Regions from separate parts of the Homo sapiens genome. Here all the other regions are reported to be linked to region 3. The links are microRNA targets in miRTarBase. Many come from high-throughput screens and were not tested one by one. Region 3 holds a microRNA gene; each other region holds the end of a gene's coding sequence.
The links. Region 3 holds the annotated microRNA hsa-miR-539-5p (GGAGAAAUUAUCCUUGGUGUGU, at 3,831-3,852, shown strand). A microRNA usually pairs through its seed, bases 2 to 8, with sites in the 3' UTR of a target mRNA and lowers its output. Matches are read on the target gene's strand: a 7mer-m8 pairs with bases 2 to 8, a 7mer-A1 pairs with bases 2 to 7 and ends in A, and an 8mer does both.

Region 1: miRTarBase lists TXLNA as a target of hsa-miR-539-5p. Seed matches in the 3' UTR shown: 7mer-m8 at 4,337-4,343 and 7mer-m8 at 2,992-2,998.
Region 2: the mRNA of KDM7A is a reported target of hsa-miR-539-5p. Seed matches in the 3' UTR shown: 8mer at 3,383-3,390, 7mer-A1 at 737-743 and 7mer-A1 at 22-28.

What each region holds. Positions count from the first base shown.
Region 1 is chr1:32,194,880-32,199,879 of GRCh38, reverse strand. TXLNA (taxilin alpha) reads right to left here. Exons shown (of 11, transcript NM_175852.4): 11 at 1,595-4,978. The coding sequence ends at 4,685. It also overlaps a transcript of CCDC28B not described here. Among named protein-coding and RNA genes, the nearest start is that of CCDC28B, 3.2 kb to the left of the region's middle. RefSeq lists enhancers at 1-67, 68-626.
Region 2 is chr7:140,086,894-140,091,893 of GRCh38, forward strand. KDM7A (lysine demethylase 7A) reads right to left here. Exons shown (of 20, transcript NM_030647.2): 19 at 4,911-5,000; 20 at 1-4,295. The coding sequence ends at 4,201. Among named protein-coding and RNA genes, the nearest start is that of PARP12, 26 kb to the left of the region's middle.
Region 3 is chr14:101,043,499-101,048,634 of GRCh38, forward strand. MIR539 (microRNA 539) reads left to right here and starts at 3,823; the gene lies at 3,823-3,900. MIR1185-2 (microRNA 1185-2) reads left to right here and starts at 700; the gene lies at 700-785. It overlaps MIR381HG (MIR381 host gene), which reads left to right and starts at 1,659. Exons shown (of 3, transcript NR_104192.1): 1 at 1,659-1,686. MIR381 (microRNA 381) reads left to right here and starts at 2,422; the gene lies at 2,422-2,496. It also overlaps MIR487B and MIR889. RefSeq lists enhancers at 2,267-2,767, 2,768-3,268.

The DNA.
Region 1 (5,000 bases), not on the chromosome of region 3:
CTATTTAAAGCCCTGGCAGAGGCTCCTGGCGCAGGTCCCCAGAACAGCATCTGATACAACAGGAGAGAGGCTCATGTTTGGCCAGGCGGCTCAGCAGGCTCAAGTGAGCTGGCCCAGGGCAGTGCACACAGCCACCCAGCCCACCTTCCCCATCCCCGGGCAGGAGTGGCTTCCTGGGGTTGGGCCTCTTGGCTGATGTGGGGAGCCATGGGCACTGCTCCTGAGGGCACCTGCTCAGGGCTTCTTCCTGGGTACTTCCAACACTCAGAACACTCCACAAGGGTAAAGAGTAATTCCGAACTTTTTCAATAACCAGGGGCCCAGACTGGGGACAACAGAAATCCCTCTCCTTCCCCACCGGAGCTGCTAGAGTAGACAGTGGTAATGCTGCTGACAGAGGGAGCACCCCTGTGGTTCCCATCCTCAGCTGCTTCACTGGGGGGTCAGAAACCTCATTATTCTCAGAGCTGCTTTGCTTGGAATCTCCAAGAGTTGGGGCGGCACCCCCCCCACACCCTCCAGAGGATCTGCGACTAGAAATAACATGGCCAGCATGGAAAACATGTATCAGGACCCAGCTAGAAGGGTCAGAGGCTCTGCTGGGACTGTCACAGTCATTGTGGGCACATCTATTTGTGGAGGCCTGGAGGGAAGGGCAGGTGGGTTGTCTCTGCCATTTCCTGGGCATTCAGCACATATCATCCTTTGTGCCTGACCAACCCAGGACCCAGAGAGAACAGGGTGCTGGGTGAGGCCACCAGCAGCATGTCTCCCATATAGGAGTCCCATGCTTGAGGTGGGTAAATGGGGGGTGTAAAAACTGAACAGAGAATGTGCTCTCCTTAAGGAATGCATACAATTAGAGGCCCCTGTGAATTCCCTTGGGCAGGCCAGGGCTATAGGAGCCTACCCACAGCTCAGACCCAAATAGCAGTGATGAGTGTCCACCCCTCTTAACCTGGGCCTCAAATGGCCTATGCCTGGCTCCATGCCTTTTGCCTTACTGCTGGAGCCTATCAATTTCCTATTGAAACACCTTCAGTTGCCCCCCCTGCCCTCTGGATCTAGCCCACATTCCTTAACCTGGTACCCAGACTCTGGGCCCAGCCTCACCCCCTCTCCCAGTCCCATGGACCTGCTTCCCAGCTGTACCATTTAATCACTAAATGACGTTCATCTTCTACCTGCCCTGTGGTTCAGAAGGCCATTCCAGGTATCACCCCCTCACCTTGCTGAAGGGGGCAGGGGCCTCCTCTCTGCTCTCAGCACCATTGACCTGTCTATAGCTAAAAGTACCTTTTCCCTTCACTAGCCTGTGAGCCCCCAGGTCAGGGAAAACTTTTTTGTGTGTGTGTGATCCTCTCTGAGGCAAGGGTCTTGCCAACTTTGCCAAGGGCTCCACTCAGGCAGCTCAAGTGAATATGCCAGCATCCTGAGGCTGTGGCGACTGCTCAAAGACACTGTGGAATATGTAAGATACCAGGGAACCACCATGGGCGCTCTGCAGCAGACCTGAACAAGTCAGTGATGATGGAAGGGGCTGAATGGATCAGATCCAGAAACAAAGGAATACACAGGTCAGGAGAGAAACAAGTAAGGCAACAGACTCTTTATTTAATGTGGTTTAAAATACATCAAAATCAAGTCCCTGGCTGTTGTGAATACCCAAAGGAGACAAAAAAGCTGCCAGTGCAGCTTCAAACAAGTCTGAGTGGCCGGGCTGGGCCATAAGGAAAGCAGTTACAGGGACAGAAGGCAGCTCCCTTCCCCCAGGAAGGGCAAGAGGAGCAGGTGCCTGGCTGTCCCTGGGGTGACCACCTCTGTGCTGTGCAAGGCGGAAAGGCTGGGGCAGCAGCTGGAGAATCAGCTCAGCAGGCCTTGGCCCTCCCCCGTGGACACCAGGCAGCTCCACTGGCCTCCGGGTCAGCCCTCAGGGCCACCGTGATGGGGTGGAGGAGGGTTAAATAACCATCTTTACAGAAATAACAGTCTCCTACAGAAAGTGCCTGAGCTCAGCCCATGGTCCGATAACCTCATGGAAAACAAACAACAAATAAAAAAAAAAAGTGCTGCTGACACCTCTCAGAATCTGGTGGACATGAAGCTCTCAGCTGGACAAGGCCCTGAAAACAATTTACTATTAGCAGAGCCATGCGCTCTTGAGCTTCACCTGCTGTGGTCCCCTGGAGGAAAAGCTAGCAATCTAAGAAACCAACACAGATCTTGGTCCTAAAACTGAGGTCACAAGTGTGGGACCCACCCAGGTGAGGAAGACACTGGCCTTCACTCATGGATAGGCACCTCCCCTGCATCTGGCCCAGGACCTGGGCTACTTTGGAAAGCAGAAGCAGAGCAGCTGTAGTGATTGGTTGATTTGGTCAATGAAGAGAAGAAAAAGGTAGGGAACCTCATCTGCAGACTGGCCTGAAGGTCTAGACATGGATGGAGCTGTGAGCAAAGGCTGCACCTTGCCTGGGGCCCACATTCCTGACCTGGGAAACCCAGCTGGGGCCACCTGCTCACTGTGGCCTCCTACACCACCACACTGGGATCCAGCAGCTCCAGTCCCTCCACAGGCATTAAGAGGTAGCTGAAGTGTGAGTCAGGCAATTATGTGGGCCACTGTAGGCCTTTCCCCTCTCTTCAAGGGGGAAGGTGCATACCTCTGCCTCTTCCCTGCACCTCTCTCGCCTAGCAAACACTCTGTGAGGTTGGCAGCTCTTGTACCAGCTTAGCCTGGCACAGGGGCTGGGGTAGGGAAAAGGCCCTACTGGAGCAGGAAGAGGCAAGGACTACTCCAGACAGAGGGATTCAAAGGGGAAGAAAAAGGTCATGGGAAACACTTCACAGGACAGCAGTATCTCAGCCAGAGATGGCAGAGATCTCAACACTCACACAGCTGCTTGAGGGCACCTAGATGTGAAGGATACACCAGAGAATAGCAGGCAACTCTGATGCAGATCAGTGGTACCTGCCCTGGGGCAGGAGAAGGAGAAATGGTGTGCCATTCATTTGCCATCTCTGGTCTCAGTCACACATGATTCAGTACTTAACATTCTTTGTGAACCAACTTATCTGAGAGATTTAAGGTAAGGGCTAAAAGAGTGGGCTAGGTATGGAAGATGAAGGGACCTGCAGGACAATGAACTAGCTTCAAAGAAAAACAGCAAGAAGCAAAGCCCTAACCATCCTATCCATCTTGGTCTGAGTCATTCTGTTGTCCCAGAAAACTGCTTGGCACAAACACTGGCTAATACCCTGGCAAGTTTGCAACAGCAGAACATTCAGCATATAGAATGGCTCTACACAGTACATAGTAGTTATGTACTGGAGTGGGGGTAGAACAGGACACAGAAACAACTGTCTGCAGCCATTTTATGGATTTCTGGGGCCCAGTCAATAGTTCAATTTCATTTCTTACCTGTTAGACAACAGCTATGGGCTCCCACACAGGAAGAAGTAGAATCCCCAAGGACAGGCAGGGAGGTGCCAGGAAATAGAATCAGGACAAATCTTGAGGATTGCACATGTGGGGGTGGGGGCAGGAAGCAGAAAAACCCATGAAGCCAAAGAGGCAGCTGGACATGGGACCCAGCAACTGCTGCATGGAGACAGTGCTGATGGGAACTGGTGGTGGCCTCTCAGGACTGAAACCCACAGGTAAGCTTGTGGCAAAGCCATCAGAAGCCCTTTCCTTTCTTTTACCACAAACAACCTGATCTCACCAAACAGGAAACCTCAGCATCAAGATGGCAAAGGAGCCAAGTGGGGTGGTGAAGGAGGTGGGACACTGGAGGCCAGGCACCCAGGCACCACTGCTACAGCATCCCTCTTCCTTGGAAGGTCCTCAATACAAACACTGTCATGTGCAAAAAAAAAAGAAAAAGAAAAAAAAAAAAAAAGAAAAAGAAATAAAGAAAAAAACACCTTCAGAAATAATCCTTTGGGTGATCTCTTGTCAATCATTTGTGCAGGCTAGAGAGGCACCTGTGAATGATAAGGCTACTGAGAAGCATCATTGGCCTGGTCCTGGCACTACCAAAGGGCAGGGGAAGCGATGCCCAAGGGGCTCCTGACCAGCACATCATCCCACGCAAAAACATTCTCCAGGTCCCTTGTTCCAGGCAGGAAATCCCCAGCTCTGAGCGCCCTGCCAGGGCTCTGCCTAGGGACACCTTTTCCAGGTCTAGAGAATCAAAGGAGCCTCCAGAGCAGCTAGGAGGGCCTGAGCTGACCAAGCAAGCCCTGCTCACAAGACAAATGCAGTCAAGACCTGGGTGTATTACTTGTCTTGAGCTCTGAAGGGCAGGGAGGGGTCTGAGCCTCAAATCAGACAGAGAAATGCTCAAGTCACTTCTGCCAACTCACTGTGATGGCAGCTACAGATGACAGCCCCTCTCAAGACTCTTCAGCTCACAGACAAGCCACTGACTTCATCTGTACACACCCCCATCCCCAATGCAAGCCCACTGTACACTTACAGGTATAAATGCATTTGCAAGGCCTTGCAAAATGCCCTATGTACGTAAAACTGACCCACAAAATCCAAAATTGCAAGTGCCAGATGCCAGCCAGGTCAGAACATCCTGGCTTCAGCAATGGGCTGCTCAGCATGGGAGCCTTTTATGGGCCAGGCCTGGCTGGGCTGCCGCTCCCTTCCCAGCATGACCCAACACCAGGCTCTCTAGGCCCTGGCGGAGGTGGGCTCTTGAGGCCCAGTCTGGCCTGATGCTTCTGTGCTCGGTGCTCCTGGGTAGCAAGGCGCTTCTGTGACCCTGGGGGAGCTGGGTGCTTGAGCCCCAGGCCCCTCTGGCCTCCTCTCAGGGCCACTGTCAGTGAGGGAGCCCTGGCCACCAGCACTCAGGTCCTGTACCCTCTTGTTCAGGTCATTGCGCTCTGTCTGCAGTGCCCGGCACAGCTTCTCCAGCCGTTGGATTTTTACCTGCAGGCCCTCCAGTTCTTTATCCCGGACTGTTTTCTAGGGAAAGAAATGAGACCTT
Region 2 (5,000 bases), not on the chromosome of region 3:
CGAGCAATTAACAATATTTAATGAGAAAAATGAATTTTTGATAATTATGCCTAGCAGTAGCATACTGGGTCACATGATATTCCAATCAACTCTATCTATAGTCTTACTGCTGCAGAGAGCATCTTTTGAAAAAGGCAGAAAGAATCTTGTCTGTTGAAGATGTCTGGTGGCGTCTCCTTTCCTACACTGGTTTCTTTCTACCAAGCAAACTGTTGGTACCCAACCCAGAGCTGTCTTTGTGCATTCTCACCTTTCTAACCACCTCATTCTCCCCACAAGTTCCCTGGGGAGTTGCTAAGTCATTTTAATTCCATGACTTCCTTCACCTTTATCTAGTACCTGAAGAGTATGCTGAATCTGTGGGGATGGTACTTTCCTAATTCTTCAAGAAAAACCTAAAGCCATCTTTCAGTTAAATCATCTTAACGTACTTGAGGATACACATTCTCACTCTCTTATCCATAAACAACTTCATTTTTCTTCCACTTCAAGCACGAAATCTGATTTTAATCCAGCACCTTGTTGGAGATTCCTCGGATTTTTAAAGTAGCATGCCCTGGGCATATATTTGATATAAAATAAACATCATGAATAGTATTAGTTTTCATTTAAAAATATATATAAAGGTGCATTAATTGCCAGTTTTAACTTAATGATAAGTTCTCTGTATGTATGAAGTGTTAAGAGATTTTCTTAATTGATTATCATAATAAACACTTTAATCCAAATTTACAAATGAGAAAACTAAGAGAAAGAGTTAAGTGACTTATTCAAGGTTACACAGCTGATACCTAAATGGCAGAACTTCGACAAAAGCCCAGGTCTTCTGCTTCCTTGCATGCTACACCAAGTCCCTGTATGACCATATTAATTACCAAGTTGAAGCATTTCTTTAATTGTGAAATTACTTTCACTTCTACAGTGGCATATCTCAGTTGAAACTAAAAAAGTCAGCATGTTTTTTAATGAACAGGTCCTCTTTTGCTCATGTTTGCTTAGAAGTGAAAATAATACTGCTAATTTCCTGGAGAAGATACCTTCAAGGGCAGAGACCACAACTGCAAATTGATGTTCCCCAACAGTACTAGGTAGTGCTGGGCACACAGTAGATGTTTGATAAATACCTGTTGATCCCATATAAATAAATACAGTAGACTATAATTGAAAAGGCAATAATTAGGATTATTTAAAAATAGAAAAGTATTCAAGCTAAGTAATTAGTGATAAAGATGGGCTTGTTTCCTCTGAGTTTATGATTTCAGTCAGAATCTTCAATTCTGTATGCTTAAAAATGAACTGATACTTATGAAGTTCAATGTATTTCTAGGATACTGAACTACTACAAACTGCCAACTTTATATTGTTTACATCACTCATCAATATTGAAAAGCATAATATTATGTGACATTGTAAATTATAATCCAATGGATCCCAGCTGAACAGTCACTTATTTGAAACAATACAGGAAAATTATCATCTATTCCTATTACTAAAGTTGCATATGTTAATCATAATTCTCAATTTTACATATTTGTATTTGGTTACAACTAGCTAAATGCTATCAGTGCTGTCTTCCTAAGTTGCTGTGTCTGTATGGTATAAATGAGGTTCTCTATTACTGTTAAGCCCAGGTACTCGCAGCAGCTACCACAAAGTTCAGCCATTTCCATGAGATAAAGGGATGCATTATGGCCAGTAATGTTATAAGACGTTTGACCAGGAGTCACTGGATCAGTGGCCGAATTTTCACCAATTCAGAAAAAGACACATGGATTCTATTCAAGTGGTTCTATTACCTCGCTGAAAGTTTTCTAACTTAGCCACTTATTAAGGGGCTAAAACTACTAAAAATGAATCCACAGTACCTTCACTTTAGAATTCCACACACGGGCTACTCCAAATTAGTACTTCTCAGCCTAAGGACACAGTGGATACTGGCCACAATTTTAATTCATAAAAATAAATTAAATTTCATTTTAATTCATAAAAATAAAGTTTAATTTTAATTTTTGTGACTAAAGAAAAAAATAGAAAATACTCAAGAGCTGTGAAAAACGTAAAGGAAAAAAGAAAACCCAGATCATGATATAACACGAAAAGGAAATTATAGCTCTTACACCTCGTATTTCTTAACCCAAAATAAAAACATGACTATTGTAACACCGACTCAGGATCTACAGAAAAGCAAAAATCACAAGAATATACTGTGTGGGAAGGTAGGGGAATCAGTCAAACCCAGATTTTTGACATCCTGAGATAAGATGACTCTACCCATCTTTCCACTGGTTTTGGCATAGTGTAGACAGGGTTTACACGGGTTGTTTATAGACACTAAGGATTTCCATAAAAATTCTTTTTCCTGATACCCAGATAAGATTCAGACTTTGGTCCAGTCACTCTGAACCAGAAAGGCTACTTCATAAACTATTTCATATTTATCCCATGACATTTTGGAATGGGGACACAAGAAGTATTTCTCTTTGAAAATATACATTTGAATGCAACCATGAAAGATGATGGTACAGACTTTTTTCTTCTTAGCAATTCAAGTGATACTTAATAGAGAAGGGTAAGTCCTGCTATCTTGCTGAGTAAAAAAAAGACAAATCCATAATATGGCCATATTTCTTCTCCATAAAAATAAATTTTATCTATTTGCCTATATTTTCTTTGTAGGAATTTGTAAAATGCTCTATTGTCAGACTTGGGAACATTTCTGCCCCACCCCCAGAAATCACTTATTTTTATGCCATGGATGGAAAAAAGGGAAAATAGAAGCTACTATAAGCAAATGAAAACTGGCATTTAGTAAAAATCATACATAAAGGAGATAAATGAATACCTTAAAGTTTAACCAGATACTTAACCTCAATATGTACTGGTCAGGTTAGGATAGATGGAAGAAACTGCCAAAAGCACCCATTTTACTCCAAATCCATATCTTAAGTAATTCTTTAGAAAATTAAGAAATAAAAAAAGTAAATACACACAAAAGATCTATTCCAACATGCTTGCTTCTATACAACTTAATGTAGTATTAATCCTATTATATTACGGCTTATGATGCAGATTTGAATATCCTAAATAACATTTCCCAACAAATCAGGTATGGAGCATAAAAGTATCATAAGGTATAACCTCTGCAGCAGGTGCCAGTCCTGTTGTCCAACAGCAGCAGTACGAAGAAGGCCTGCTGTAGTTACAAATGTACTTGGAAAAACTATAAACATGACAATTTAACCAAACTTATAATACTTTTCCCACAAGTAGGAAAAATATATTAAAGCTGCTCTCTTTGGGACCCAGATATCATCAGCAGAAATGAAAATGCAAAAGCCTATTTTTTTTAATGTTGAGAAGAAAATCACAATGTCAAACGAAATGAGAAATGAGGGATCTTTCATGGAGTTCTTACACATTGGCTACGAAAGTGTTTCCCTGCAAAGAGAAGAGTCTTACTGGGTCATCACAAAATGATGGGGAGTGCAGAGGGAAGGTGGGATATAAGGTAATCAACCTGGATAACAGTATGCACCTTGGATGTTAGCAAAAGCGAAGCTAATAGCTTATAAAAAACACATGAAATATATAAAATAAAATGATTTTCATATACATCTTAATTTAAAATAATTAATGCATCAAATCCCTGTTTAAGACTTTAACCTGAATATCAAATTTAAGAGTCCAGACTAGTTACTGTTACTGTGGCCCTTCCCCACATGTAACACACACACTATCAAAAATAATTTAAAAACCTTCACATTCTTACATCTAAATTAGTGAGATATTTCTCCAGAAATCTTCCAAATAAATAGCTTTAAAAAAAGAATTTAAAAGCTGTTAACTTTAAAAAAAAATCTGTTAAATAAATTATTGATAATTCTTTACCCTACCACTGAAAATACATCAAGACACTACCAACAACAAAATAAAATTCAAGCCCTGACAAGAGACCCTTTCCAGTTCAAGGTCTCTTTTTAAGGTTCTACCCTCCTTCTTCCTCTCCCCCACCAGGTCCAAAATGGTTATTGCTGAGTGGGTGTGGCACAGTGAAAATGCAGCATCAGGTTCATTCTGTTCTTCGGGCAGTGTTCTTACTATACACACAAACTGCTCCAGGCAGGGGGACAGCGGAAGCTCCAGGCTCCTGCACCCCTAGACTGGTCTCCAAAGGGAAGAATGGCTGCAACAGCAGCTCTGTCACACAAAGAAACGTGCATGGCCATTTCTGTTCAACTTAAGGATCTTCCCAAGACGTTGTTTGGCTGTTGCCATTCCTTTTTTTGGACGTTTACCTATAAAACACCAAAAGGGAGTGTAAGTAATGATGAAAAGTACACTTAAGAGAGCACCTGGAAGACTACGGGGAGAGCTTTCTTTATGGGAAGTAAGCCCTTAGGTGTTCTGCATGGACAGAGTCATACTTCTGAACTTCCGCTGTTTAAAACCCTTCCACCTCATCACACTAGGCCCTCACAAGACTCACAAGGCTTCCCACAGTCTGGTCTGCCTGCTCTTCAGCCTGGGCTCTTCCCTATCCTGCATTACACTATGCTTAGGCAACAAAACTGACTACCATTTCACAAATACCCCATATCCTGCTTCTCCCCTTTGTGCCCTGCCTCAGGCTCAATCCTCTGCCTTCAAAGCTGTCTATTCTGTCACTTTCCCCAATTCAGCCTGGCTAACCCCTGAACATCTGATTTTAGGATCTGTCTCTCGCTCCTCAGAGCTGACTTGGGTATCCTTTTTCTTTGTTCCTGTAGTAGCCTGTGTATACTGCCATCACTATGCTGTCTACTATGCATGAGATGTTGAACAACTTGAGTGCAGAGACTACACCTCAACTGCCATGATGACCATCACATACAGTCAGAAATATACTTTCTCTATACATGTGTGAAAGTTACCTTTTGTTGCCTGGTTGCTGATAGGTGGTGGATTTGATGCCGGTCTCTTGGTGGGGTGAAGGGGCACCGAGAAGGAAGTTTCACCAACTG
Region 3 (5,136 bases):
GAGGGAAGCACATGGATGTCAGGTTGTTCTAAGGCAAGTTACTGGTGGAGCTCCCTGAGCCTGCCTGTGCCCTCTGGGACTGTCGCTGGACTCCAATGGCCAGTCCTCGGAGCACATTGTCCAGTGATTGCACCTGAGTGTGCCTTGGGCAGGTGTGTCTGGTCTTCAGGACTCCTTTGTCGCTAGAGTCTGACGCTGGGGCCCTCTTTTTGTTTGTTTCGAGGTAGGTACAGGTGACACATTCTTGGATCTGGTCATCTCTAGGACAACCAGCCTCAGAGGAGAGACATTGTCTCAGCGCTCTCCAGCTCTGAGAATGCCTGCAGATGCCTTCTTCTCTGATAACTCCATGTCTTGCCGGGCTGAGCCCTCACACCCTGTGCCCCTTTGGAGAAAGGTGATGGTTCCATTGTCCATGTAGCTTGTGGGTATTTGAAGCAGGTTCACCCATGCATGCTGAGCACACTGATAGTCATGCCTACCTGTTCCCTTGTTTAGAAGCCAGTCTCGCCTGCAGGGAGTCCTGGATGTGCCACCTTTCGGGGCCAGGCCACAATGTGCAAGGTGCAGGCCCAGCTCCAGGGTCAGCCAGATGAGGCTTGTCACCGGGCCCCTCCCCCTTGGTCTCAGGCCTCGCAGGAGGAGATGTCCACTCCGGCAAAGACCCGGCATGGTCCTCACCTGCTCTTTGAGCCACCCTTTGGTACTTAAAGAGAGGATACCCTTTGTATGTTCACTTGATTAATGGCGAATATACAGGGGGAGACTCTCATTTGCGTATCAAACTGTCGGAGAAGACACTCATACCCTGCTTGTCTCCAGGACAAAGCCTCGGATGTCAGCCCCTCTCAGGTATGGCCTGGCTTCCATGTCCGGGAACGTGAGGTTGGCTGTGACGCTGCCCCTGGGTTCTGCCTTCGCCCTCTATGCTGGTTCTTCCTGTGGACTCCCTGGAAGCAGTGGGAGAGGAGGGACCTTTTTGTGTGCTCCAAGTTTAATGGTGGTTTGCTTTTTTAAGGATAAATCACACATTGATCTGCCTCTTCTTGGTACCAAGTCATACACAGAAGGCTTCCTGTTCCCAGCATCAGCCTTAGAAGGGGGACCTGGATGTTGGATCATTTCAAGGGGAACACAGACAGCAGTGATGGTGGACCACGGAGCACTGGCTCTGTCTATGCTGTTTTCGAGCCTGGTAGGCCAGCCCCAGGAGGGCTTCCTGGAGGTGGTATTGACCTTGGGGAAGGGGCTGAGGTGTGCTCATCAGCGCTTTTTTTTTTTGATGCTTGGGTGTTCATGATCCAGCTCGCAGTCCCCAGGCTGAATCTGTAAGAATGGTTTGCTTCTATTTGTCATTTGTGATTGCCCATGAAGGCAGCGCTGGGGATGAGCCGTGGGAGCTGTCAGCCCCGCACCAGGTGCGTGCATGTGGGAGGTCAGAGGGCGCCTGCTTCTGCCTCGATGTCTGTGCCCCGTCTCTGACTGCTGGCTTTCTGCTCACACCTAGGATGGCTGCCTGAGAATGGGACTCTTGTTCTGTGTTTGTGGAGACACTCCTTGGGCCGTGTGACTGCCGGCTTTTTACACCCCGACTGCCATGGGGGTCATCTGGACCCGAAGCCAGCTTCAGGAAGGACATTCGCAGCATCCTCAGCCCAAGGAAAGCGAACGTCCAGCTGAAGAGAGGTGAGCACCACGCCTGGGTAATGAGTCACATAACCTGCCACCTGGACCAGGCGGCTCCCGCTCCTCTCCCCTTCTTGAAGGAGAGACCACTGTGGGGAATGGGCTGTGGGTCTGCTTCCTCAGTTACTTGGGGGTACGTGGGGTTTACTACTGTTGACCCTGTGCTCTTTCTTAGCATGGCTTCATGGCCACGATGCCAGCCTCTGGCAGGGGTGGGGCAAGGGCTGGCATGGAGAATGACACTGGTGTCAACGGCTCTGTGAGATGGATGAAGGGATGGTGACCACAGGGCCTTTGCTTTGTCTAAGGTGTAAATTCATCCAGTGCCTGGGACCTCGGTGCTGAGTGCATCCTTAGGAAAACTTCCTGGAGAGGTGCCCACACTGGGAAGGAGATGGTGGTCCCACCCCAGGGAATTCCTATAGAAAGTGAGAAGCTGAGCTCTGCGTGTGCCCAGGAAGGCCCGTGGGGTGGATCTCCTTTTCAGGAACAAGTTCTAATCTGGAGTGATGCCTGGAAAAGAGGCTGATTCTGGTGAAGGGGCACTGGCGTCTGCCCCTTCCTGGCCCCTTTGGGATGGAGAGCTGACCTATGGGCACACAGCTGGCAGGTGGTGTTTGCCACCTGGTCTGCTGATCCCGCATCTCCCACCCCCTCCCCCGCCAGGATGAACCCCGGGAGAGGAGGCCGGCCCCGTGAATGATAGTGAGGAACCTGCCCAGTGCTATTGTTTGGTACTTAAAGCGAGGTTGCCCTTTGTATATTCGGTTTATTGACATGGAATATACAAGGGCAAGCTCTCTGTGAGTATCAAACCTTGTCTTGGACCCAGTCCACACTCAGCAAGGGATGCGGTATGTGTGTGCATGACCGTGTGTATCCGTTTTGTGTGTGGCAAATCGTTCACGGGTCCCCACTTCACAGAGAGGACTTCACGGGCACCTGGATGACTTTAGGGAAGGCAGTGGCCTCTGGGACATCCCCTCTCCTGGTGCAGTGTGGGCGGGGCCAAAAGCATGCACGATGTGTGTGGTCTGGGTCCCTGCTTCCTGAGCGGGAAGTCATCAGCCCGGGCCGATGGCTGGGGTGGCGCTCGTGTGGGGTAGTGGCTTTGTGGTCCCTGCTGTTACTCGGTCCGTGAGTGTGCATGTTCTGCTTGGGGTATGTGACCCGGTCCACTAACCCTCAGCATCTAATTCATCCCCAGGACCGCGCCTTGAAGACGTACCAAGTCCACCCAAGGCAGTGGCTTTCTTTTCCGTGCTAACCTTTGGTACTTGGAGAGTGGTTATCCCTGTCCTGTTCGTTTTGCTCATGTCGAATCGTACAGGGTCATCCACTTTTTCAGTATCAAGAGCGCAGACTCTGGAGCTCGATTTCCTGTGTTTGGATCCCACCTCTGACATTTACTAACCGTCCAACCTTGGGCAAGGATCTCATCGTGCTGTGCCCATTGTCTCACATGTCAAAGGGGAATCACATTGGCGTCCATTTCTTGGGGCTGCTGGGGCTGAACGAGTTAAGACTTGTACACGGCTCAGAGCAGAGCCCCGTGGTCGGCACTTCGTAGGTGGTAGCCAGGACCCTTGTGTGCTGTGAAACTATCATTGGTGGTGGTGGTGGTGGTGGTGGTGGTGGTTTTATGACTAAAATCTCTCCATGGGTTTTTGGAACAGTGTCAAAACATGGAAGTCAAGTCCTTCATCGGGTATGGAATGGACTAGGAAGCCCAGAGCATACACGGTGTTTACAATGGGGGCTAGTGATGCTCTTGATGCTTGGCAGCTAAGCCATTCACACAGTGGCTTTTGATACAGAATGCCACATGCAGTGGGGGTCAGCAGGGGTGCCGAGAACATTTGCTCCACTTAAGAGAGACAGTCCCTGGGTTCTTGACCTCGGCCACTATCTACGCTTTGAAGGAGTCTTGAGCGAGGATGCCAAGCTGAGTGAGGATTCTATGGCATCTTGCTTCCCTGGTGCTTAAAGAGAGGTCAAACTTGGTGCATGCATTGTGCATGCCTGTGTGTGCGTGGTGTGTGTGCATGAGCGAGTGTGTGACTGGGTTTGCCACGAAGCAGTCACCATCTAACCTTGAGCCAAAGACCTGGAGGTGGTGGTCCGTGCTGCTGTTTCATACTTGAGGAGAAATTATCCTTGGTGTGTTCGCTTTATTTATGATGAATCATACAAGGACAATTTCTTTTTGAGTATCAAATCTTGCCTCGGCAGACTTCCTGGACGCCATGACAAGTTCTGTAAAGGGATGCACGCATCAGCCCTTCCCAGGGGCTCACGCCTGGGTGGGGATGAGGGCGCATGCAGTTGGTTTGTGGTGGGGACACTTGTGCCCTAACCTCAGAACCCTGGAGGCGGGGCCACGCTTGGCAGGGGGCCACGGGACTCCTTGGTGCTATCAGGGATTTGCATTGGCCATGGGTGTGTGTTGTGGGTGACGCAGCATTCAAGCTACTTATCAAATCCTGCTTCTTGGAGGCACTTCTTGGACATGAAGCAAACCTTAGGGACCGATCATTGGGGCCAGACCCCCTTCCCCTGCCCAAGAGTGTGACTGACCCCCAGGCATGGGCTTGACTCTCAATGTGTGAAGCTGACCTGCTAATCCTCATTGTTTGGACTACCTGAGAAGAACTTTCTGGAAGAGACACCAACTTTGGAGAAGATGCCCAGCTCTTCTTGATGGCACAGTTCTTTGGTGCTTAAAGAATGGCTGTCCGTAGTATGGTCTCTATATTTATGATGATTAATATCGGACAACCATTGTTTTAGTATCCAAATTTGCTTCAGAAGTTTTTGAAAGCACAGTGCTGACTTCAGTGAGGGGACATTGGTGCCTGCCCCACCATGGAGTGTGACTGTGTTGATGATTTATAATGATGAATCCAGTGATCTCAGAATGCAAGCCACCAGTGTGATTTCCTTGGACAAATGCTAGCTTTGGGGTGGAGATGCCATTTAGGGGCTTGGTGCCATATCTTTTTATTGGAAGATGTTCACAATTATTTCATCTCTCTTTCTCTTCTTGTTATTAAATCTTAGCCACGAGGAATTCCTTGGAGAGATGCCGGGGTCAAGCCTCTCTCTAGGTAGATGGTGGACCGGGGAACCTGGGTCCAGCCTCTCCTATCTGTAGCCTTCATTCTGAGTATGAAACACTTCCTGTAGGGAATGCAAACATTAGTAAAAACTCCGTACATTTCCTGTTACTATTACTACTTTTTGGCAGCTCCTAAGCAGCTGCCTGTTGGGTATTTGGATTATTCTTGGTGGACGTGGCATGGCTTCGTGCCTTCCTTGGGAACCACCCCATCTTAGACAGACTCTCATGGAATAAGACGTTGTGGTCGACAGCACCTCTGGGGTGTGTGTGTGTGTGTGTGTGTGTTTGTGTGCGTGTGCATATGAATAGTTGGCTAGAGTAGTGTTTCT